Linked DNA regions of Homo sapiens. The protein of the gene in region 4 purifies or fractionates together with the protein of the main gene of each other region. This does not show direct contact. Each region holds a gene or a part of one and is shown on either strand. Other genes may lie near its edges. The genes, in order: CSGALNACT2, MTCH2, SNX13, TSPAN1 and TLCD2.

Region 1 (4,417 bases), on a different chromosome or scaffold from region 4:
TGGTCCCAGCTACTTGGGAGGTTGAGGCAGGAGGATCACTTGAGCCCAGGAGGTTGAGGCTGCAGTGAACTGTGCTCACTCCACTGCATTCTAGCCTGGGTGATAGAGTGAGACCCTGTCTCAAAAAAAAAAATAAAAATAAAAAAAGAGTCATGATACCTATATCCTTAAAATATGTGGATTTTACTGCATGTAAATTATTCCTTAGTAAAGTTGATTTTTTAAAAATTCAACTTGTCTTAAAATGAATTCAAAACAATTATCAAGGCCATCAAATTTAGTTTCTAATAGGTGTCACTCTTAATTTATTTCATAGTTCAAATTGTCTATAACACAATATACTACACATGCTTTAAAAAAAGAGAGAATATAAAAAAATAAAGTTCCCCTAAAGCCTGTAAAATTATTCTAAGTAATTATAATCGGTGAAGATAAATTAAGGAAATCTGAGTAAAACGTGATTTTTTTTAGGAGAATGTAGCTTAATCATTAAGCCCTGACAGTTACCTGAAGTTCTGCATAAATTGTACAAATGCTTCAGTTCTTTCAGCAAGTGGCACAATGATATTAATAATTGATCTAGTGATGTCAATCATCTCACTCTTCACTTTCATGAGAGGTCCAAAAGGGCGGAAGAGGGTCACATGTCTATATTCCGTAAGGTCTGCTTTCTTAAAAAAGAGTTCATACTGTGTGCCCTTATCTCTCTCAGTGCGATAATAACCTAAAGGAAAGAGTTAGGAACAAAGACGTCTCCATGTCAAAGTTTACAAATTCAATGGGAAGACAGATTTTACTCACTTAAACATAAAGGGTATTAAACTAGACCTGCAGGATTTTTACCTATTTGTGAAAATACTTATCCCCACTGCACAGTAACAATTACTCGCTTAAAAGAAAAGGTTAAAAAAAAAGTTCACTGTTCTGTTATTTTATTCAATCTATAAAATATACTACAAATGACAATTGTTCCTTTTTACATACGACTTTTTAAAAATACTAGAGCCTATCAATATGGTAATCATGATAAATAAAGAAATTACTTCTAGCAATATTAAAATCTAGACCCAAGAGCCAAAATTTCTATTGGTTTAGGTCAACTAAAAGAAATCGAGTGCCTTCGTGTCAGTTATGTGATACAAAGAGTGCCACATGGTCTCAATTTTGAGGACAGGGCCAGTCTAGTGAAGGAGACAGAAAAATAGACAAATAATAACAATATAGTGCTATGTGATATATATATATATCTGTATATATATATGTGTGTATACATACATACATATAAAATCACTGACTAGAGTGAAGTCAAAGAAAAATTGGTACAGATTTAAACACAGTGATTTGAGATGCCTTTGAGAGAAAAGCATGCGCATCTACGAGGCAATCTGATTTTTTTTTTTTTTTTTTTTTTTAGACGGAGTCTCACTCTGTCACCAGGCTGGAGTGCAGTGGTGCAATCTTGGCTCACTGCAACCTCCATCTCCCGGGTTCAAGCAATTCTTCTGCCTCAGCCTCCCAAGTAGCTGGGACTACAGGCGTGTGTCACCACGCCCAGCTAATTTTTGTATTTTTAGTAGAGACGGGGTTTCACTATGTTGGCCAGGATGGTCTTGATCTCTTGACCTCATAATCTGCCCACCTCGGCCTCCCAAAGTGCTGGGATTACAGGAGTGAGCCACTGCGCCCAGTGGCAATCTGATTTTTAAGTATGGCGCTCAGGAGAGAGAAGAAGGTTAGACCTACAGATGTGTGAGTCACTCAGTAAATATCTGGGTATAAAATGGTGAATAAAATAGACTTGGTCCCAACCCTCCTGAGGCTTACACTTTAGTAGGAAGCACAAACCAGGAAATGGGCAATGCCACATACTGTGACAAGCAGTATGAATGTACAGGTGACAAGAGCACACAGAAGTACTGCTGTCTTAGACCTGAGGTTGCAGATGACTTCTCAGAAGAAGTGATATCTGAGCTAAAGTTTAGAAGAGGGATAGGAATTAGTTGTCATTACTAATTATTAGTAATTATTCTCCCTGCAGTGGGCAGACAGTGGCACAGTAGAGGAAAAGTGAGGAACAGAATATGTTCCATTTAGAGAAAAATCCTGAAGTATCAGAATCCAAGGAGAGTTATAAGACAAAAGCAGGAGCTGCAGAATATAAAACTGGCACAGCTCCCTTTCTTTTTAGGTAGAGCTGATGTGAGGACATTTTACACATGTTACTTAGTTATCTTATTTCCTCCGCAGCTTCCAATTCTGCCATAAGCTACAAACATACAGTGAGAAGACAAAAAGCTGAGCTTGCAGAAAAATCAGAAGAGTTTTGAGAAAAATAATCCATCAAAAATGGCAGGAAGTGACAGCAGAAAAAAGAGGAGGCCACAAGGAAAGGCAGCTGCAATGCCACTGCAAAGCATAATGCCCTCCCTGATGGCCTCCAAGGGCCTCAGTGTATTATAATAATGCTACAGTGCAGCAAGTGATGGCCATGATGATTTGGAGTCAAAAAGTCTACATGTGCTATACGAGGGGTCCCTAACCCCCAGGCCACAGACCGCTACTGGTCCGTGGCCTGTTTGTTGGGAACTAGGCGGCACAGCAAGAGGTGAGTGATGGGAGCCTGGCAAGCATTACCGCCTGAGCTCCGCCTCCTGTCGGATCAGTGGCTGCACTGGATTCTCAAAGTAGAGCAAACTCTGTTGTGAACTGCACATGCAAGGAATCTACACTGCACGCTCTTTATGAGAATCTAACTAATGCCAGATGATCTGAGGTGGAACAGTTTCATCCCAAAACCATCCTCACCATCCCATGGAAAAATTGTCACCCATGAAACCAGTCCCTGGTGCCAAAAAGGCTGGGGACCACTGTGATAACACAGTTTATAGAATCAAGCAAAGAGAACTTTCAAGAAACATTTATTTTTAAAATGGTTTAAGTCAGCAATTAAATGTCTAGCAGTGAGTGTAAAGGAGATGGGTAGGGATCTAGAATTATTACTGTTAATATCAATCAATATCTTAAATTTTATAGCAGTGTTCTTCAACCTCTGAGTCACATCCCATCTTGATACATAAAAATTCCATACCCTTTCTGAAATATGTATTAGGAAAACAGGTATTTCCTTACTTTTCCAAATGCCAAATGTGCTTTTTAAACTATGTATAACCCCTTGTTCAGACATGAGCTTCTCCTTCCTCCAATACGAAAAATAGCTAAGAGTCTACTAATTTTTTCTTTCCTTTATCAAATGGTTTTCAAGTTTTGAGTTTTAGTTTACACATTTTTTAAAAACATAAAAAAGAACACCAAGATCAGGTAAGTGAGGAATATAAATCATACACATGCAACAAGAGCTGTTTTATTCTATTTCCCTAGTCCTTATTCTCCATTTTTATTATGATCTCATACCTTTTTCCAGAAGGCCACTTAAAATTCTTGGTGCAATGAAGTGCAAAAACTTTCAGTGTTTTAATACTGTGGATAATGACTGACTTATATTACTAACATTTGTCTACAATACAATACTAGCATTTGTCTACAGTACAATACTACAATACAATACCAGCATACAATACTAGCATTTGTCTTACTAACATAATATTGACCAACATATTTTTCACATTACCTTCTACGAAGTCATTTTCATTAAATATCAGTTTCTCTCCAAGGGGACCCTCCTCATCTTCTTGTTCATCATCTTCATCAGGATTATTAATGACCTCCAAGCCCGCTTCAATAACTTCCACCAATTCATCTCGTTTGTCTTTTCTAACTGGCTTTTCTTCAGGATGGCGAGTGAGACCCATTTCCAATTGAAATACTTTCATTAAGGTAAAACTTTCAAAGGGAATGACCCCATACTCACTGGGTAGTTTGGCCCCTATGCTAACTTCAGCTTTGTCAATTTGGGAATGAAGAAACTCTAAAAGATCACTAGGTGCTTGCTCTTTGTTGCTCTGATAGCCTATGCCATTAGCCCCTACATTCCTTCTTTCTTGCAGTGACCGCATCTTCTCACTCATTTCTTGTAATTCTTGTTTTAGTTGGGCAATTTGGCGTTTCAGACTGGTTGCCCTGGTCTGATAATGTTCTTCTTGTTCCTGTAGGAGGGCTTGATAATACTCTTTACCATAATTTTCCCCAACAACACCAGGAAGAGATGCATTTCCATCAGTCTGGGGGGCACATTCCAGGAGGTACATAAATAATACCAAACTGCAGAGCAAAGCAAGGCCCAACAGCAACCAGTGGGTCCGGGTGTGAAGAATCAGTCCTCTTCTAGGCATTCTTATTAATGTGTATTTGCCTAACAAAATAAGCTCTTTGTGTGTTCATACCTTTAGTAAAAAGTTATCAAAAATTAAAAACAAAATCAGAATTTCCATAAAATAATTCTGCCGTAGCTTTAAGTTTT
Region 2 (4,417 bases), on a different chromosome or scaffold from region 4:
AAAACAGAGTTCTTGAATTTTCTTTTTTGTTGTTGTTCTTATTTTGTAATTATTTCTTTAAATTTATTATTATTTTTTTAGAGACAAAGTCTCACTATGTTGCCCAGTCTGGTCTTGAATTCCTGGGCTCAAGCAGTCCTCCCTCTTCGGCCTTCCAAAGTGTTGGGATTACAGGCGTGAGTCACTGCGCATGTTCCCTTTTCGTTTTTTGGGTTTTTTTGTTGTTTTTTTTTGAGACAGAGTTTCACTCTTGTTGCCCAGGCTGGAGTGCAATGGCATGGTCTCGGCTCACTGCAGCTTCCACCTACCGGGTTCAAGCAATTCTCCTGCCCCAGCTTCCCACGTAGCTGGGATTACAGGCACCTACCACCACGCCCAGCTAATTTTTGTATTTTTAGTAGAGAGGGGGTTTCGCCATGTCAGCCAGGCTGTTCTCAAACTCCTGACGTCAGGTGATCCGCCTGCCTCAGCCACGCAAAGTGCTGGGATTACAGGCGTGAGGCACCATGCCCGGCCCCTTTTCTTTTTTTCTGAGATGGAGTCTTGCTCTGTTGCCCAGGCTGGAGTGCAGTGATGTGATCTCAGCTCACTGCAGTCTTTACCCCCCGGGTTCAAGCAATTCTCCTGTCTCAGCTTCCCAAGTAGCTGGGATTACAGGCGCCCGCCACCAAGCCCAGCTAATTTTTGTACTTTTAGTAGAGATGGAGTTTCACCACGTAGGCCAGGCTGGTCTCAAATTCCTAACCTCAGGTGATCCACCTGCCTTGGCCTCCCAAAGTGCTGAGATTATAGGCGTGAGCTACCGCACCCAGCCTTCCCTTTTCTTTTTTTTTTTCTTGAGACGGACTCTTGCTCTGTCACCTGGGCTGCAGTGCAGTGGCGTGATCTTGGCTCACTGCAACCTCTGCCTCCTGGGTTCAAGTGATTCTCCTGCCCCAGCCTCCCTAAGAGCTGGGATTAAAAGCGTGCGCCCCAATGCTCCGCTAATTTTTGTATTTTTAGTAGAGATGGGGTTTCACCATGTTGGCCAGGCTAGACTTGAACTCCTGACCTCAGGTGATCTGCCCACCTCGGCCTCCTAAAGTGCTGGGATTACAGGCATGAGCAACCACACCTGTCCCCTTTTCTTTTTTCAAAGAAGAGTTTTCATGACCATTTGCTTTTCTTCCAACTGACCAATATGTTAAACTTAGCAACAAGTTTATCTTGGAGATCCATATTTCCAGTTGATTAATGAGTAGAAGTTAACTGAAGATTTGCAGCTTAAAAAAAAAAACAAAAACTTTAAAAAAAACTTCAGCTAATTTACTTTCTGTCAGTAGAGTTTTCATTTTATGTCTTCTTTCACATGACACTGTAATAACCCTAATCATCCTTTTTCTTTTTTTCTATAGCATTACCAGGAGAGTGACAAGGGTGAGGTATGTTGGAGCTGATTTCTAAGCATGAGGGCCTTTCCCTTGCAAGTTGTTACTGCTTTTGGGGCCTCTTTTGGAGAAAAGCCAAGTAGTCAGTCTCCTATTCATCTCAGTGAGTGTTGTCCTATGGGGTGGCCACCAGTTTGGACAGTTCTGTTTGAAACCATCAGGATGGCTGGGCATGGTGGCTCATGCCTGTAATCCTAGCAGTTTCGGAGGCCAAGGTGGGAGGATCACTTGCATCTAAGAGTTTGAGACCAGCCTGGGCAACATAGACCCCTTCTCTACAGAAAATCAAAGATTAGCGGGGCCTGGTGGCACATACCTCTGTATCTCAGCTACATGGGAGGTTGAGGTGAGAGGATCACTTGAGTCCAGGACGTCAAGACTGCAGTGATCCATGATCACATCACTGCACTCCGCGTGAGTGACAGAGCGAGACCCTATCTCAAAAGAAATAAAAACCGTCAAGATCGGCCGCCCATGGTGGCTCATGCCTGTAATCCCAGCACTTTGGGAGGCCGAGGCAGGTGGAGATCACGAGGTCAGGAAATCGAGACCATCCTGGCTAACACGGTGAAACCCCGTCTCTACTAAAAATACAAAAATTAGCAGGGCGTGGTGGCGAGCACCTGTAATCCTAGCTACTTGGGAGGCTGAGGCAGGAGAAGCACTTGTACCCAGGCGGTGGAGCTTGCAGTGAGCCGAGATTGTGCCACTGCACTCCAGCCTGGGCGACAGAGCGAGACTCTGTCTCAAAAAAAAAAAAAAAAAAAAATCAAGATCTCTATTTTCTTTGATTTTGATTTCCAGGAGTTAGGACCTGGAAATGTACAGAAAGAAGTCTCATCTTCCTTTGACCACGTTATCAAGGAGGTAAGAGATGAATTACATCCTGTGCTGTTTGCCCAGATCAAACTGTGGTGTTGCAACTATGGAATCAGAATCATCAGGCCTGTGTGTTCAGTGTCTGTTCCCAAATGAAATTAAACCTTCAAATTAATTTGGGCTTTACTACATGTATAACATTAAAAAGAGAGAGGATCAGTGCTTGCTGTTCAGAATAGATGCATTTCAAGAAAACTCATTTTGCCCACACATTCCGTCTTTAGAATACTGAAAGTCTTCTAATAGTGTTGAAAACCTCAGGAATAAAAGTGTTAAAATAGGCCAGGTGTGGTGGCTCACGCCTGTAATCCCAGCACTTTGGGAGGCCAAGGCAGGAAGATCACTTGACCCCAGGAGTTAGAGACCAGCCTATGCAACATAGTGAGACTTCCTCTCTACAAAAAAAATAGAAAAATTAGCTAGGTGTGTGGTGGCACATATCTGTAGTCCCAGGTACTCGAGAGGCTGCGGTGAGAAGATGACTTAAGCCCAGGAAGTTGAGGCTGCAGTGAGCTATGATTGTGCCACCATACTCCAGCCTGTGTGATAGAGCAAGACCTTGTCTTTAGAAAAAAGTATTAAAATAGCGACCAGGCCCTTTGTATGTTGGATAGTATCTATGCAGAAAGGCTCTTTTGACATTTTTCTGACTCTGAAAAGTTCCTCATCACCCATTTCCCACCCCCATATGCTGCCATAGGTGTTTCTGTGCCTGGCTTTCAGAACTATTCTCTTATTACTTAAGTCTTCACATTGTCTTAATTGTCATTAATGAAGTCACAATTATCCAGGAAATGCAGCCATCCAAAATACATATTCCAAAGGCTGGGCGCAGTGGCTCATGCCTGTAATCCCAGCACTTTGAGAGGCCGAGGCGGGCGGATCACCTGAGGTTGGGAGTTGGAGACCAGCCTGACCAACATGGAGAAACCCCGTCTCTACTAAAAATACAAAAATTAGCCAGGCATGGTGGCGCATGTCTGTAATCCCAGCTACTTGGGGGGCTGAGGCAGGAGAATGGCTTGAACCCGGGAGGCAGAGGTTGTAATGAGCCAAGATTGCACCATTGCACTCTAGCCTGGGCCACAGGAGTGAGACTCCATCTCAAGAAAAAAAAAAAAAAAAAAAAAAAATATATATATATATATATATATTCCAAAACAAACATTACTAAAGGTCTGGAAACCAGATAAATTAGCTCTATTTTCTGTAAATTTTCATGAAATTAGTTTGCTTAAAAGCAGGGATACGGCCGGGCGTGGTGGCTTACACCTGTAATCCCAACACCTTGGGAGGCCGAGGCGGGCAGATCACGAAGTCAGGAGATTGAGACCACCCTGGCTAACACGGTGAAACCCCGTCTCTACGAAAAATACAAAAAAATTAGCTGGGCATGGTGGCAGGCGCCTGTAGTCCCAGCTACTCGGGAGGCTGAGGCAAGAGCATGGCGTGAACCTGGGAGGTGGAGCTTGCAGTGAGCCAAGACTGCGCCACTGCACTCCAGCCTGGGAGACAGCGAGACTCCCTCTCAAAAAAAAAAAAAAAGCAGGGATACATGTATTACTATGCAATTAGTATTTTCCTTAGTTTGCCCATCCAGTCCCATAGGATCTTATGCCCTTGGAGAAGGGGTGAGGGCTGTCTTAAAACTCAGTGACTAGGCCGGGTGTGGTGGCTCACACCTATAATCCCAGCACTTTGGGAGGCTGAGGCGGGCAGATCACGAGGTCAGGCATTCAAAACCAGCTTGGCCAACATGGCGAAATCCCATCTCTACTAAAAATACAAAAAAAATTAACTGGGCATGGTGGTGTGTGCCTGTAATCCCAGCTACTCAGGAGGCTGAGGCGGGAGAATCACTTGAACCTGGGAGGTGGAGGTTGCAGCAAGCTGAGATCGCACCACTGCACTCCAGCCCGGGCAACAGAGCAAGACTCTGTCTCAAAAAAAAAGAAAAGAAAAAACTCAGTGACCATAAAGATACTGTTTAAATGCAAAAGCCGGCCAGGCACGGTGGCTCATGCCTGTAATCCCAGCAGTTTGGGAGGCCGAGGCGGGCGGATCATGAGGTCAGGAGATCGAGACCATCCTGGCTAACACGGTGAAACCGT
Region 3 (4,417 bases), on a different chromosome or scaffold from region 4:
TCTATTTCAGAGTCAGGTTTAATTTTGGTGTCACAAAGCCTTAAATATGTGTAAGGAGAGGAAACGTTGAAGCAAGCAGATAGCTCTTAAACTGTTTAACGTTTTAAAAGTATTTGGAATTAAATGAATAAATAGGCTGGAGTGATAGTGATAAATACTGTGTCTATCAACAAATTATACATATGGCAACACACAAACCTGTATGTTAAGCACTATAAGGGATGAGTCTCAACTTTATCACTTATTTATGATGGGATTTTGGGGAACTAGTTTGAACTTTCTAAGCTTTTAATTTCCTTCTGTGTAAAATTGGGGTAATAGCACCTTTCTTGCTGTTCTTACATTGTTATGAAGATCATATAAGATGATGGAGGGTATAACTTTGTAAATTGCCAGTCATTATAGAAATAGTGGTAGTACATCGGGTTTTTTTTTTTTTCTGTATATTCCTTGTACTAATGAATGTAAATCCTAGGCTCCATGTAGTTTTATTGCTCACTATTTTCTTGGTGGATAGGTGGGTGGGTCCTGAGGGGAAATTAGGAGGGGAGTCTCCTGGCTAGTGGTGCAGTTACAGGGGAGACAGGGAATAGACTAAAAGAAGTGAAAGAGAAAAAAGGGGATAGTTTCTTGTGTGGTTGGTAAACCGATTTCAATGAATGCCTTAAAGCAAGTTCTCTCTTTTTTTTTTTTTTCTGAGACAGAGTCTCGCTCTGTTGCCCAGGCTGGAGTGCAGTGGCGCGATCTCAGCTCACTGCAAGCTCTGTCTCACGGGTTCAAGCGATTCTTTTGCCTCAGCCTCCTGACTAGCTGGGACTACAGGCGCGTGCCAGCACGCCTGGCTAATTTTTTGTGTTTTTAGTAGAGACGGGGTTTCACCAGGTTAGCCACGATGGTCTCCATCTCCTGACGTCATGTTCCGCCCGCCTCGGCCTCCCAAAGTGCTGGGATTACAGGCATGAGCCACTGGGCCCGGCCGCCTTAAAGCAAAGTTCTAAAAAATGTTTTGAAAAAGATGATTTATTTGAGGGTTACCAGTCATTTGTCTGTACATATTCCCAAACATTTGTGGGAAGAAAAATCTTTTATTTTTAATCAGACTTGGTAAATCCTTGAAAAGCTGTTATTAAGGATAATGTTTATAAGGCTTTTGTTATAACTCGTGCTGGAGATTGATTTTTATGGATTGATTTCTTCACCAAACAAGAGTATGCCTACTTTGTACTAGGCACATGCTGATAAGTTCTAGTGTTGAAGTGGTGAGTCAGTTGGGAAACCTGTCCTCAGAAATCACTATCAGCGCTAAATTTAGCATTGTACCACTTAGGCCATCAAAGTGGGAGCCTTGAGGTCTTTTGTCAGAATAAAATGATACCACTAAAGGGTGAAAAGTTAAGAGGGGAAAAGATTGGAGAATATAATTAAAAGATAACTGTGACTTGGGTTAGCTTTACAACTCCTGGTAAATCTACTAGTTTGGATGAGACAGCAGCTCTGAAATGGATTTCTTGCAATTGAAGAGTCAACCTGGTGAAAGTAGTACTTGATCCTGCTGTTCCCACCTCCATGTGTTATGTATATATTTATTTGCTTGTTACATGTTTTTCCCTAATAGAGTAAACTCCTGAGGATGGGCCTCATAGGTGTACTCCCAGAGCCTAGAATAGAGCTTGATACTTAGTAGGCCTCACTAAATATCTGTTGAATGAATGAATGTTGAATATTTCCTCAAGAAAAATTAAGATTAAAGTGAAAAATTACGGAGATGAAATTGTCAGTGATAAATTTAAACCATCATATTAATTACCCTTAAAGGATTGGTTACTATCTGTTCATTAGACATTTTATATAGTAAGTACATTGTGGTTAAATATTGTGTTTAAGAGCAATGGGACAAAAAAAAGTTGAACCTGAGGCTTTTAGTTAGGAATGAAATTCTGTCTTAATTTTTCCTACAGGGAAAAATCTGATTAGGTTGTTACTTTGATATAACCAATTATAAATGCAAGAGGGACTTGGATTTTGTTTTGTATCTCTTACTACTTGATATTATGATTTCATTAATATTACTTAAAGTTTAATTCCTAAACTAGATACATTTAAAGAAAGCTTTGTCTGTAATAGTACAATAATGCTGATTTTCATGGCACTTTGTTGACTGTTTCAATTTGTATGACCTTTGATGCTATCTTGAAAGTTTGTAAGTATCAGTAAAAATTTGGCCGTGGTTTCAAAGTTGGAAATTTTGGGGGTCCATTTTTAAGGAGGGCAGCTGCTACCACAGTCTCTTAACTAAAATGCGTCTCTGTTCAATGTTGGAGACAGAGTACTGTTATGTCGTTTGCCCATCTGTAATTCCACTGTATATTCAGAAATAATATATACCAGAAAAGTTCAATAAGATGATTCTGCTCTGTTCCACTGTTCAAGTAGAATAATGGTCTGTAAATATACTTATGAGAGGATCATGTATATTAACTGGAATAATTCACCATTGTTTACTTATTGCACTGTTTTCTCTGATTTCCTAAGGGATCTTTTTATTCTGATGCATCTGTGAAGACCCTAAGGTGAATCCAGCTTTGCTCTTGACCTTAGCTGTGCATTGTTGGAGAATCCTTGGTTCTTATTCCATTTAAACCTGAATTGGTATTATACCTGAAATTTGGGGGCTATTTTTAGCCTGACTGGCTTAGCATAGGAAAGAGTTGTGATTCTTTGTTTTGTGATTTCTTTTATTTTCGAGCTAGAGTTGTGGAGAATGGCCTTTGGATTCATTGTCCTGTGAAGTTTGGAAATTATAAAACTGAAGTTGTACAATTTTAGTGGAAGAGTTAAATGTGAAATAAAATTTCACCGTATTTCTGTTATTACATAAATATTAGGAAATAATGTTCTGACTTTAAGATGTGATATTGTGTTATCCAGTGTTTCTCCAAGCTGTAATATTGTATTTTGCAATTTGTTCTCTTCCAGAGTTTGAGATAGCTTGTTTTCTCAGAATTTTTCTCAGCTGAGAAACACAACTGGTGTTTAATTCAGACTGCAACTATTAATATAATCAGCTATTTTACATGTGGTATTAATTACTAACATCTGATCTTTTTCTTGTATGGTACCCAACTGCTCAACACTTAAAGTATTGCAATAGTGTTAATCCTGGTGGGAGTCAGGAGAGTAAAATAAATGGGCTACAATGACAGTCTCCAGCCTTTTTGGCACCAAGGGACCGGTTTTGTGGAAGACAGTTTTTCCACGGACGGCTGTTGGGGGGAATGGTTTCGGGATGAAACTGTTCCACCTTAGATCATCAGGCATGAGAGTCTCATAAGGAATATGCAACCTAGATCCTTGCATGTGCACTTCACAATAGGGGTAGTGCTCCTATGAGAATCTAATGTCCCAGCTGATCTGACAGGAGGCTGAGCTCAGGTGGAAAAGCCCACTCCCCGCCACTAACCCCTGCTGCTCACCTCCTTCTGTGCGGCCTGATTCCTAATGGGCCATGGACCTGTAATGCTCTGTGGCCCAGGGGTTGAAGGGCAGAACACCACAAAGTTACAGGAAAAGAAACTGAAATAATATACTTTCCAAATAGTGAGTATTGGTTGCATAAAGGTTTAGAAAAACCAAGTAGACTTGAGAGTATTTTATGATGCATTAAAAATGTATTTTATGAATCTGAAATTCCAGAAATTAATAACAGCAGCTCAGAATATTCAATCATATAATAGGCACTAACACAAAATTTATGTGATGATGAAAGATTATCTTTATACTAGGATTCAGTGTTAATCATCTTTTTTATATATGTATATATATCTCCTCTAGTCCCAAACCAAATATTCCTAATTTCTGAATAAAAATGTATACTTTTGGTTAAGAGTGATGGCTGGTGTCAGATTATTTGGATTTGAATCTAAGTTTTCTCGATTCCGAGCATTTTGACCTTGGAAAGGTTGCTAACGTTTCAGAGCCTCAGTTTTCTTATATGTGTGACTTATAAATGAATGGTACTGACCTCATAGGGTTGTTGCAAGTATTAAGTGAAGTAACACATGTACTGTGCAGTGTTTCCTACAGTAACAATAAATCTTTATTCTTATTTCTTTATTCTTATTCTTTATTCTTTATTCTTATTCTTATTCTTTATTCTTTTTCTTATTCTTTATTCTTATTTCCTCTGATGTAAATAGCAAGTGGTTTATTTTCAAAACTTAGAATTTAATATGTTTGAAGTTGTTTTAGTGTTCTTTGATTGAGGTAGTTTTAAAATGTCAAGAGTAATCCTGTATGACCCAGATGATCTAATTCTTTCCTTACTTGCTATCTCAGTTTTTACTAACTTCTCAATTTACGTATTGCATTTCCAAAGTGAATACTAAGAGTGAGATTTAGACTGAATTTCGGGAGGAAA
Region 4 (4,417 bases):
AGGGTCTGGGGTTAGTGTGGGGGGGAGCACAGGATATACAGGTGCTAGGAAAGAGCATGGAGTGACCTGCAGTGTGGGAGTCAGGCTGGGTGTGCAGGTGGAGGAACCTGGGGTGTTAGGATCTCAGAGTGTCAGGTGCTGGTGGAGGTCCTGGGTAGTATAGAGGGGTAAGGGTGTTAGGATAGAAACTGGGAAAAGGTCTGTGTCAGACCAGGTACAGGAGAAGCTTGGTGAGATATGGGTTCAGGATCCTGGGGTCTGGCATATCTGGCTGAATATCTGAAGCCAGGGCCAGCCCAGGTGGGCCCAGGGGAAACAAGGCCCTAACTTGCACATGTCTACCTCCCAGGAGCCACCATGCAGTGCTTCAGCTTCATTAAGACCATGATGATCCTCTTCAATTTGCTCATCTTTGTAAGTACGGACATTGTGGACTCTTTGGGGCTCCCTATAGGAGCAGGTCACAAGCTGAGTAGAGACTAAGCTGGGGAATGGGAGACTGCTATGCCCAGGCTTCGTCCTGCATGTGTCCCCTTATGAGTGGGATGCAAAGGTCTCCCCAAATGCTGCTGATTCCTAGTCCCAGCAGCAGCCAGGCTGCCATACAGGTGCGTGTGTGAAAAAGGGGATGGAGAAGCTAGGGGCACCCCCTCTCTCCTACAAAGCTTTAGCCTAGGCTTCAGGCAGGGCAGAGTAAGCTACCAGGAATGATTCTCCACCCTTTATAGGCACTGGGGGCCCAGAAAATAGAAGGGCTCCACCCAAGTTTACCTACCACAGAAGGAAATTCAGTACAGAGGAAATTCTTCTGTATGACGGGGAGCTGAAAGGAGGGAGGGCCTACCTCTCATCAGAGCAACAGTCCTTATTCATTCGACAAACATTCATTGTCTAGGATACCATGATGGGTGCTGGGGTGGCAGGTAAGCAAAGCCTTTCTCTGCCCTGAAGGATCTCAGCTCCGATAAGCCAGATAGGCAGATAATAACAACACAGTGTGTTTGGGCTTAGGACGGAGGTTATGGGAGCCTGAACTCAGCCTGGTTGGAGAATACTTCCTGGAGGAAATAGCTGAAGCTGGGAAATTGCACTTGGTGGGGGAGTTATAAAGCATGCATAAAGGGCCAGAAGTAGTGAAACTTGATATCGTTCAGAAAACCAGAAACAGATTGCATAGGGCATGTTTGAGAAGCTGAGCCATGAGGCGTAAATCCTGGAGATGGTGGTGGAGATAGGGAGAAACGGACAAAGTGGACAAAGGACAAAGCTCTAGGATGATGGCTGAGGGGTAGAAGAAGGGGCAAGGGAGACAGAGGTCTTGGAGATGACGCCCATATCTCTGGCATGAGCAACCCAGATGGCAGGGGGTGGGGCCTGGTTTGTGGGAAGGGGTGTCCCACTAGCAGATGTGTACCCAGTGGAGGTGCAGCTCAGATTGGAGCTGGCCATGGGTATTTGAAAATCATGTGCGCACAGGTAGCCACTGAAGCCATGGGAGTGGATGAGAACACTTGGAAAGTGAACTCTGGGAAACCCAATTTATTAGGGATAAGCAAAAAAAAAAAAAGCCACTGTGAAGGAGATGGAGAAGGAGCAGTGGGAGGGGGAGAGGAAAACAAGGAGAGTAGTACACTAACCACATTAGAGTAGGTTAGTGTAAGTGAAAGTGAGGAAGTGGGCCAGGTGCAGTAGCTCACAACTGTAATCCCAGCACTCTGGGAAGCTGAGGCGGGCAGATTAGTTGAGCTCAGGAGTTCGAGACCAGCCTGGCCAATATGGTGAAACCCCGTCTCTACTAAAAATACAAAAATTAGCTGGATGTGGTGGCGCATGCCTGTAATCCCAGCTACTTGGGAGGCTGAGGAAGGACAATCACTTGAACCCAGGAGGCGGAGGTTGCAGTGAGCCAAGATCACACCACTGCACTCCAGCCTGGGCGACAGAGTTTATGTATGTATTGATTAGTTTAGAAGCGTGGGTAGACTCTCTAGTTCTGATGTGGTCTGTGCCTTGGGCTTCCTTCGGCTGCAGGGAACTTGTGTTTTTGTTGTTGTTGTTGTTGTTGTTTGTTTCTTTGAGACAGGATCTTGCTTTGTCACCAAAGCTGGAGTGCAGTGGCATGATCATGGCTTACTGCAGCGTCAACCTCCTGGGCTCAAGGGATTCCCCTACCTCACTCAGCCTCCTGAGTATCTAGGACTACAGGAGTGTGCCACCATGCTCAGCTAATTAAAAAAAATTTTTTTTGTAGAGGCGGTCTCACTATATTGCCCAGGCTGGTCTCGAACTCCTGGACTTAAGTGATTCTCCCACCTCTGCCTCCCAAAGTGCGGGGATTACAGGCATGAGCCACTGTGCCAGTCCTGAACTAGTCTTTATCCCTGTATCTGGAGGAAGCAATAGGATTCCAGGGATTTGGACAGGAGAGGCTCTGCCCTGAGAGGGTTAAAGGCAAATCCGGTTTGATTTCTGGCCTCTGTTACCCAGACCTTGCCAGGCTGGGCAAAGCAGGATAGGGCAGACCTCCAGCTCCATGAAATTTGACCCTGCAGGCTAGAAGTCCAGCTTTCTGTCCTTGGGCAAACATGCCTGGAATCCAGCCACAATCTGCCACCTCACTTCCCGTTCTAGCCTCAGTTTTTATAGCTGGCAAGTGAGGACTAGTCACCAAGGTGGTGTCAGGCTGATTCATCCACTGAAGCCCTGGGCCGGGAGGCTTTCCTCTAAGATCTGTGGGAACTGCGCAGGGCCCTCCTCAATCTAGGCCTCAGAATTCCCCCTGAGGTTTGGAGTTGAGCTAGACAGCCTTTAAGAGAAGCTCTGGCTGTATTCCCACTGGTACCTCACTTTCCTCTTGTGAGGCAAGGAGGTCTTGTCTACATGAGGGGCGGGCCTGAAGTTGGATTCTGGAGGGGAGCCAAATGGGGCCTCAGGTGGGTGAACCTTCTCAACCTCCTCCCTCTCCAAGGTTGCCAGCAGGTGGAACCTCAGCCTCGCCTCCATTACTATGGTGACTATTGAGCCTGTTCTGCTACCACCCCCGTCTCCACCTATCAGAGGACAGAGGTGTTCTAGGCACCCATAGCCCAGAAAGGAAATAGGAGGCTGGGCCCTCACCTGCCTGTTTTCAATCCTAGCTATGTGGCAGGACCCTGGCAGCAGTGAGGGAAAGTCTTGCCCCTCTGCCCACCCTGAGGATATTTCTAGAACCCCTGATCTCCTTTATATCTGCCCAGGTGTGCAGCCTGGTCCTAGCTATGCATATCCCAGCTCCCATTTTTCTGGCTCTAGAGGATGTTTCCCTCCTTACAGGATGAGGTTTTAGACTCCCTAGCCAATAAAGAGGGAAGTTTCTCGGCTCCCATCCTTCTTACTCAGCTGTGTGGTAGTAAGCTACTTGCCAGCACTGTTTAAGGCCTGCCTGACCTCTCTCTCCCCAGCTGTGTGGTGCAGCCCTGTTGGCAGTGGGCATCTGGGTGTCAATCGATGGGGCATCCTTTCTGAAGATCTTCGGGCCACTGTCGTCCAGTGCCATGCAGTTTGTCAACGTGGGCTACTTCCTCATCGCAGCCGGCGTTGTGGTCTTTGCTCTTGGTTTCCTGGGCTGCTATGGTGCTAAGACTGAGAGCAAGTGTGCCCTCGTGACGGTGTGTGAAACCCAGCTCCACAGGCTGATGACCAAGAGTCCCCTCGCCCTTGACACCAGGCCCTGGGATTCCCAAACCCTGCTTTGGACCCCCCTAGGCTCAGGCTTCTGTCTCACTTTTCCGGGGGGGGGATTAGGGCAAGGAGGGCATGAGGGACTGTCTCTCCCTAAAACCCAGACCCCTGTTCCCCACTCAGTTCTTCTTCATCCTCCTCCTCATCTTCATTGCTGAGGTTGCAGCTGCTGTGGTCGCCTTGGTGTACACCACAATGGTGAGACACTGGGATGGAGGAAGGGAAGAAGATTGGGCAAAACCCTGGGAGTGGGCTGTGGCCTGTGAATGGCCACCTTCTGTACCAGCCCCTAAACACTGGCCTGCCTCACCCAGGCTGAGCACTTCCTGACGTTGCTGGTAGTGCCTGCCATCAAGAAAGATTATGGTTCCCAGGAAGACTTCACTCAAGTGTGGAACACCACCATGAAAGGGGTAAGGTTGGCTGGGGGAGGTTTTAGGGTGGAGAGAAAGAAGCAAGGCCCCACCTCCACCCTCATCTTGTCTCCAGCTCAAGTGCTGTGGCTTCACCAACTATACGGATTTTGAGGACTCACCCTACTTCAAAGAGAACAGTGCCTTTCCCCCATTCTGTTGCAATGACAACGTCACCAACACAGCCAATGAAACCTGCACCAAGCAAAAGGCTCACGACCAAAAAGTAGAGGTGTGGGCTGGCATGAGTGGGTGGGGACTGTTTTCATGGCCTCAGAGTGGCA
Region 5 (4,951 bases), on a different chromosome or scaffold from region 4:
CTCTTTTCTCTCTGTCCCCACCCGCCCCATACCAGATCTCTCTGATCCTAGTGGGACTTCACCTTCCCCCATCTGTCCCTGGGTTAAAGCAAAGAGCTTCTGTCTCCACTGGCAGTTTCTTCCAGCTGCATGCCTCCTGCCACCCTTTACTGATAGCTCTAGCTGTACCTCTTGAGTTTATTTGCTGGAAAGGATGCTCATCTGATGACGGATTTCAGTGAACAGAAACCCAGGTTCCCACCCATCCAACATCAGCATTTCTTCTTAGATCCGAGGAAGGGGAAGGGATGTGAGTTAGCTGGAAGAGAAACTGAGATTCTGATGAGCAAGTCTGGCCCTCACCCTGATGGGGGACTGTGCATGGAAGACCCTCATCTCCTTGTCCTGGCCCCACCTCCCCCAGCGAGGGGCCCATGGCTTCTCTCTAGTCTTTCAGGCTGAGAGTCGAACTGTTGCTGGTGACAGGTCCATTGTCACGACGTGTCCTGGTCCCCCTGGTTTTCTCATGGCCAGGGCTGGGTGGATGGGGTCGAGACTGTAGGACATCATTGACCAGAATACGGATCCCCAATATGATGCTCATGATGCCCACAGTGACCAGCCCAATTCCACCCAGGGTGACCAGAGCAAGAGGAACCTGGTGGTGCTGCCGGAACAGCCACAGACTCATCCACCCCAGCGGGACCAGGCGGAAGAGGGCCAAGGTGGCCAAGGAGGCCCAGCTGGTCACGCTGAAGGCCAGGGATGGGGCCTGGCGAGAAAGCAACAGCAGCTTCCGCAGGTGCAAGCAGGCAGAGTTCAGTTCCAGGAGCAGAGACACCATGGAGAAGCCCACGTAGTGGCCAGACAGAACAGCGGTGCTGAGGCAGCTCACCACCTGGGAGCCAGGGTCACAGGTCAGAGGAACCCCATGACCTGCCAGCCATCATGTCCCAATAACCCAGGCCTGAAGAAAGAGGCTTCCACGCAGTCTGTGGGGCTCCCCAAACACCTGACCTTTATGCTTTTACCTTTATCCTGGGGCCCTGAGCAGCCTTGAAACAACCCTTCCATAGATGGAACCAGGCTTGGCCCAGGGAGGGGCTGTCTCACCCCCTAATACCCCCTTAACCTCCCATTCCTGGGCTTGCTTGCTTTTTTTTTTTTTTTTTTTTTTTTTCGAGACAGACTCTCACTCTGCCACCAGGCTGGAGTGCAGTGGTGTGATCTTGGCTCACTGCAACCTCTGCCTCCTGGGTTCAAGCAATTCTCCTGCCTCAGCTTCCAGAGTAGCTGGGACTACCGGTGCGCGCCACCACACCCAGGTAATTTTTGTATTTTTAGTAGAGACGGGGTTTCACTGTTAGTCAGGATGGTCTCGATCTCCTGACCTCGTGATCCACCCGCCTCGGCCTCCCAGTGTGCTGGGATTATAGGCATAAGCCACCGTGCCTGGCCTAGGGCTTTCATGCCCCATACCCACACCCTATACCAGGACACCCCCTTCTCAGAAAAGCTCCATATTCCACATTTCTGTGATCAGCTGGACACCTGTGGGGGCACCCAAACTCCTTAGGCTCACATGGTGGGTGCCCTGGCATGGTGGGTGCCCTTGTATGGTGAGTGCCCTGGCATGGTAGGTGCCCTGGCCTGGTGGGTATCTGGACTCCCCAGCTGTGGCCAGCAGCCACCTCCTCCCCCTAACTCAGCCTAAGACTGGGAGCCAAGCACCAGCTGGGGGCAGAGACTGTGGGAAATTATAGGACAGCAAAATGAAGAGAGGGCCGGGGGCGGTGGCTCATGCTTGTAATCCCAGCACTTTGGAAGGCTGAAGTGGGCGGATCACCTGAGGTCAGAAGTTCGAGACCAGCCTGGCCAACATGGAGAAACCCCGTCTTTACTAAAAATACAAAAAATTACTTGGGCGTGGTGGCGGGTGCCTGTAATCCCAGCTACGTGGGAGGCTGAGGCAGGAGAATTGCTTGAACCCAGGAGGCGAAGGTTGCAGTGAACAGAGGCCGAACCACTGGACCCCAGCCTGGGTGACAGAGTGAGACTCCGTCTCAAAAAAAAAAAAAAAAAAAAAAAAAAAGAATGAGGAGAGACTGGGAACCTCGGGCTGGACAGGGCTCCCCTCCTCCCTTCCTGTCTGGCTTCTGCCCTCAGAGTCTCACCACCAAATGATGACAGAGAAGATCCCAGGTCTTGCCCAAGGTCTGGTTCCACAGCAGGTCAGCTCCGTCTGCCAGGAAGTAACCTGTGGGCATGGGGGTAGGGGTTAGGCTGCTCCAGAGCCCGGGCAGCTTAGAGAGGATTTCCAGCCCCCCCGCCCCGCCCCTCTCCCAGTTCTTAGTTTTCCCTTGGTAAAGCCTTCAGGAACGTTTAACCCCCATGGGGGCGGGGAATGGACCTGGAAGGACAGCAGAACCTGCCCCCCGCCCCATCCCCACCACCGGCCCAGCCTTCCCTGCAGACTCACCCACAGACACAGCCACCAGCACCAGAGCCCAGCGCGGGTGGCCATGGATGGGGTCGGCGGCCATCTGAGGGTACAGTGACAGGCTGGGGGCATGGGGTGGGGACATGGGGGGGGGCATGGTCAGCCTCTCGAGGCCCCGGCCGCAGTCTCCCTGTGCGCACCCCCACCCCAGTCTCAGCTCTGGAGACGCCCGGCGGGTCTCCCGGCCTCAGCCTCCCACCCCTCGCCCTCGCCCCGTGCGCCTCGAGCCCCCAAGCCCGCACCCGAGCAGCGCCCCGGTCCCCGAGAGCAGGCTGTGCGCCAGGGAGACGCAGAGGTTCCACCACTGCCAGCGGTCCCGAGCGGCCGATTCCGGCGTGGGCAGCCGCCGCAACCCCCAGTGCAGCCCCCGGAACGCGAGGAAGGAGGCGCCGGCCACCAGGAGCCCCGTGGGCGCCATGGCCTGGCGGTTGGGGGGTTGCGGGGAGTCCGGGTCGGTCCCCTCGGCGCCCGCGCTCTCGGCCGGGACTGGGAACCCGTTTCCCGGCAGGGCTGGGGCCCCGGCTCCCCTCCCCGCCGCGCCTTTGGGATCAGCAGGAACTTTTCCCCGTTCGTCCACGCCCAGTCCCTCGCCTGGGCGGTGATTGGAGCAGCCGCGGGGCCGCCGCCCCCGGAGCCTTGGCCACCGATTGCGTCTTGCTCCAGCCGGGGGAGCGGTTCGGGGGCTCCGGGCAGTAGACCATGCCCTGGAGCTCGGGGGGCCTCCGGGATGTTCGCCAATAGGGGTCCTCCCCAGCTCCAAGCGTCCTGAAGCGCTGGAGTTGCAGACCTGGGTCTCCAGTCTAACCTCAACTGACACTCCCGGGCCCCACCCACGAACCTTGACCTCTTCCCGGCTCCCGCGACTTTCACCTGCTGAGCGTCATCACCACCCACCGCCACACCCTGCAAGGCAGAGGCTAGCGCAGCCCACTCGTACCTGCCCGAGCCTGGCCGCCGCCCCCACTTCCCTCCCCGCGTCCGTGGTGGGGACGGGGTGCCCCACTTTCTTGGAGCCACCCCTTCGGCCTCCTGAGGTTTCCACGCCTTTACCATATCCCGGCAAACCTGTAATTCCAGCAGTTCTGCTCCCCCTCCCCCACAACCCCCAGGAGACCCCATGTTGGAGAAGCGACCCACTGGGCCCCGCCCCGACCCCCAGCATTGTTTTCGGCCCTACGGAGGAGCCTCATTAGGAAGAGGACGCAAAAGGGAATCGCTGGCCCCCAGTCTTGAAAAGCACTTCCTTCCCCAAGGGCTTGGTACCCGTTGGGTGGGTAGAATATCTTCAATCCGAGGGCAAGGAAAGGTAACACAGGGTCCCTTCAAGGCTGGGACAGAGTCAGAAGAGAAAAACAGACCTGTCCTGCTCTTAGTAGCAGGGCGGTTAGGATTCCAGAACCCTCCAGCCTTAAGAGGAAGAGCCTCCCCCAGCCCCTCACCACCTGAAGAGCCCCAGGTTGCACTGCTTTCCTTCCACCTTACTCCACTCCACCTCTTCAGCTGGCAGACAGTCAGCAAGTCAGAGCTGTTTCCTGCAGGCTGAGAGGGAGGATTCCAGCTACTTCAAAGAATTAAGTTCATAAACCAAGAGGTGCCCCAACCAAACCTTCTCACCAAAAAGCTGAGGTCTTCCCTTCATTCTTCTACCCCCACCTCTCCAAAGGTTTAAATAATAACACTGATCTCTTAAATTATATTATATGAAATACAAAATGTGGAAAATTTGGAAATTACAGAAAAACCAAAGATGAAAATTACAGTGACTTTGTTCCACCATACAAAGATAACCACTCAACATTTTTTAGTATGCCTTCCGTCTTTTTTATCTGCTCTACGTATACAAGCATACACCCATATTTTAAAAAACAAAATTGAAATCACATAACATGCACTATTTTTACAACCTTTTAATATTCAAGGAGCATTTTTCTTTCAGTCAGATGTTCTTTTACATGACTTTTAATGTCTGCGCGGTACTCCACCATCTGGATGGAGATACAATAATTTACTTAAGCAATCCCCTATTGCAAACTTTCGTTACAGCAGAAAAGGAATAAATTCCCAACCAAACCATTGCTTCCCATTTTTCTCCATTGCAATGCTGGGATGAACATCTTATCACTAACTAAATCCTTAAGTATTTTCTTAGGATAAATTCCCAAAGATAGAATTCGTAGGTCAAATGACATGGAGGCTTTTAGGCCACATGACACATATCACCCAACTGTCATCCAGGAAGCCTGCACCGATGTATACTCCCACACGCAATGTATGGGAATGTTTTTTCAGTAGTCTCTTTGCCAATATTGGGTCTTATTTTTTTCTGTTATGGTTTGCTAAGGGAAAAATGCTTCCAGCTCTATTTGCCTTTCTTTAATTACTAATGAAGCATACTTTTTTTCATGGTTTTATCCATTCAGATTTCTTTTATGAATTTCCTGTGTGTGTCCTTTCGCAGATGGTTCTTGGTCC

Evidence for each region.
Region 1: the proteins of TSPAN1 (region 4) and CSGALNACT2 purify together in Homo sapiens (affinity purification with mass spectrometry; one large-scale study listed by BioGRID and IntAct). This does not show direct contact.
Region 2: the proteins of TSPAN1 (region 4) and MTCH2 purify together in Homo sapiens (affinity purification with mass spectrometry; one large-scale study listed by BioGRID and IntAct). This does not show direct contact.
Region 3: the proteins of TSPAN1 (region 4) and SNX13 purify together in Homo sapiens (affinity purification with mass spectrometry; one large-scale study listed by BioGRID and IntAct). This does not show direct contact.
Region 5: the proteins of TSPAN1 (region 4) and TLCD2 purify together in Homo sapiens (affinity purification with mass spectrometry; one large-scale study listed by BioGRID and IntAct). This does not show direct contact.

What each region holds. Positions count from the first base shown.
Region 1 is NC_000010.11:43,155,022-43,159,438, reverse strand, and holds part of CSGALNACT2 (chondroitin sulfate N-acetylgalactosaminyltransferase 2), read right to left. Parts: 5' UTR 4,290-4,417; coding exon 3,629-4,289; intron 725-3,628; coding exon 508-724; intron 116-507; coding exon of another isoform or gene 91-115; exon of another isoform or gene 75-90; intron 1-74. UniProt on the Homo sapiens protein: Transfers 1,4-N-acetylgalactosamine (GalNAc) from UDP-GalNAc to the non-reducing end of glucuronic acid (GlcUA). Required for addition of the first GalNAc to the core tetrasaccharide linker and for elongation of chondroitin chains.
Region 2 is NC_000011.10:47,632,549-47,636,965, reverse strand, and holds part of MTCH2 (mitochondrial carrier homolog 2), read left to right. Parts: intron 1-1,394; coding exon 1,395-1,421; intron 1,422-2,231; coding exon 2,232-2,294; intron 2,295-4,417. UniProt on the Homo sapiens protein: Protein insertase that mediates insertion of transmembrane proteins into the mitochondrial outer membrane. Catalyzes insertion of proteins with alpha-helical transmembrane regions, such as signal-anchored, tail-anchored and multi-pass membrane proteins.
Region 3 is NC_000007.14:17,929,823-17,934,239, reverse strand, and holds part of SNX13 (sorting nexin-13), read left to right. Parts: intron 1-4,417. UniProt on the Homo sapiens protein: May be involved in several stages of intracellular trafficking. May play a role in endosome homeostasis. Acts as a GAP for Galphas.
Region 4 is NC_000001.11:46,180,751-46,185,167, forward strand, and holds part of TSPAN1 (tetraspanin-1), read left to right. Parts: intron 1-349; 5' UTR 350-357; coding exon 358-414; intron 415-3,440; coding exon 3,441-3,647; intron 3,648-3,843; coding exon 3,844-3,918; intron 3,919-4,034; coding exon 4,035-4,133; intron 4,134-4,209; coding exon 4,210-4,365; intron 4,366-4,417. UniProt on the Homo sapiens protein: Structural component of specialized membrane microdomains known as tetraspanin-enriched microdomains (TERMs), which act as platforms for receptor clustering and signaling.
Region 5 is NC_000017.11:1,707,346-1,712,296, forward strand, and holds the start of TLCD2 (TLC domain-containing protein 2), read right to left. Parts: upstream 3,033-4,951; 5' UTR 2,898-3,032; coding exon 2,722-2,897; intron 2,542-2,721; coding exon 2,459-2,541; intron 2,237-2,458; coding exon 2,154-2,236; intron 878-2,153; coding exon 425-877; 3' UTR 1-424. UniProt on the Homo sapiens protein: Regulates the composition and fluidity of the plasma membrane. Inhibits the incorporation of membrane-fluidizing phospholipids containing omega-3 long-chain polyunsaturated fatty acids (LCPUFA) and thereby promotes membrane rigidity.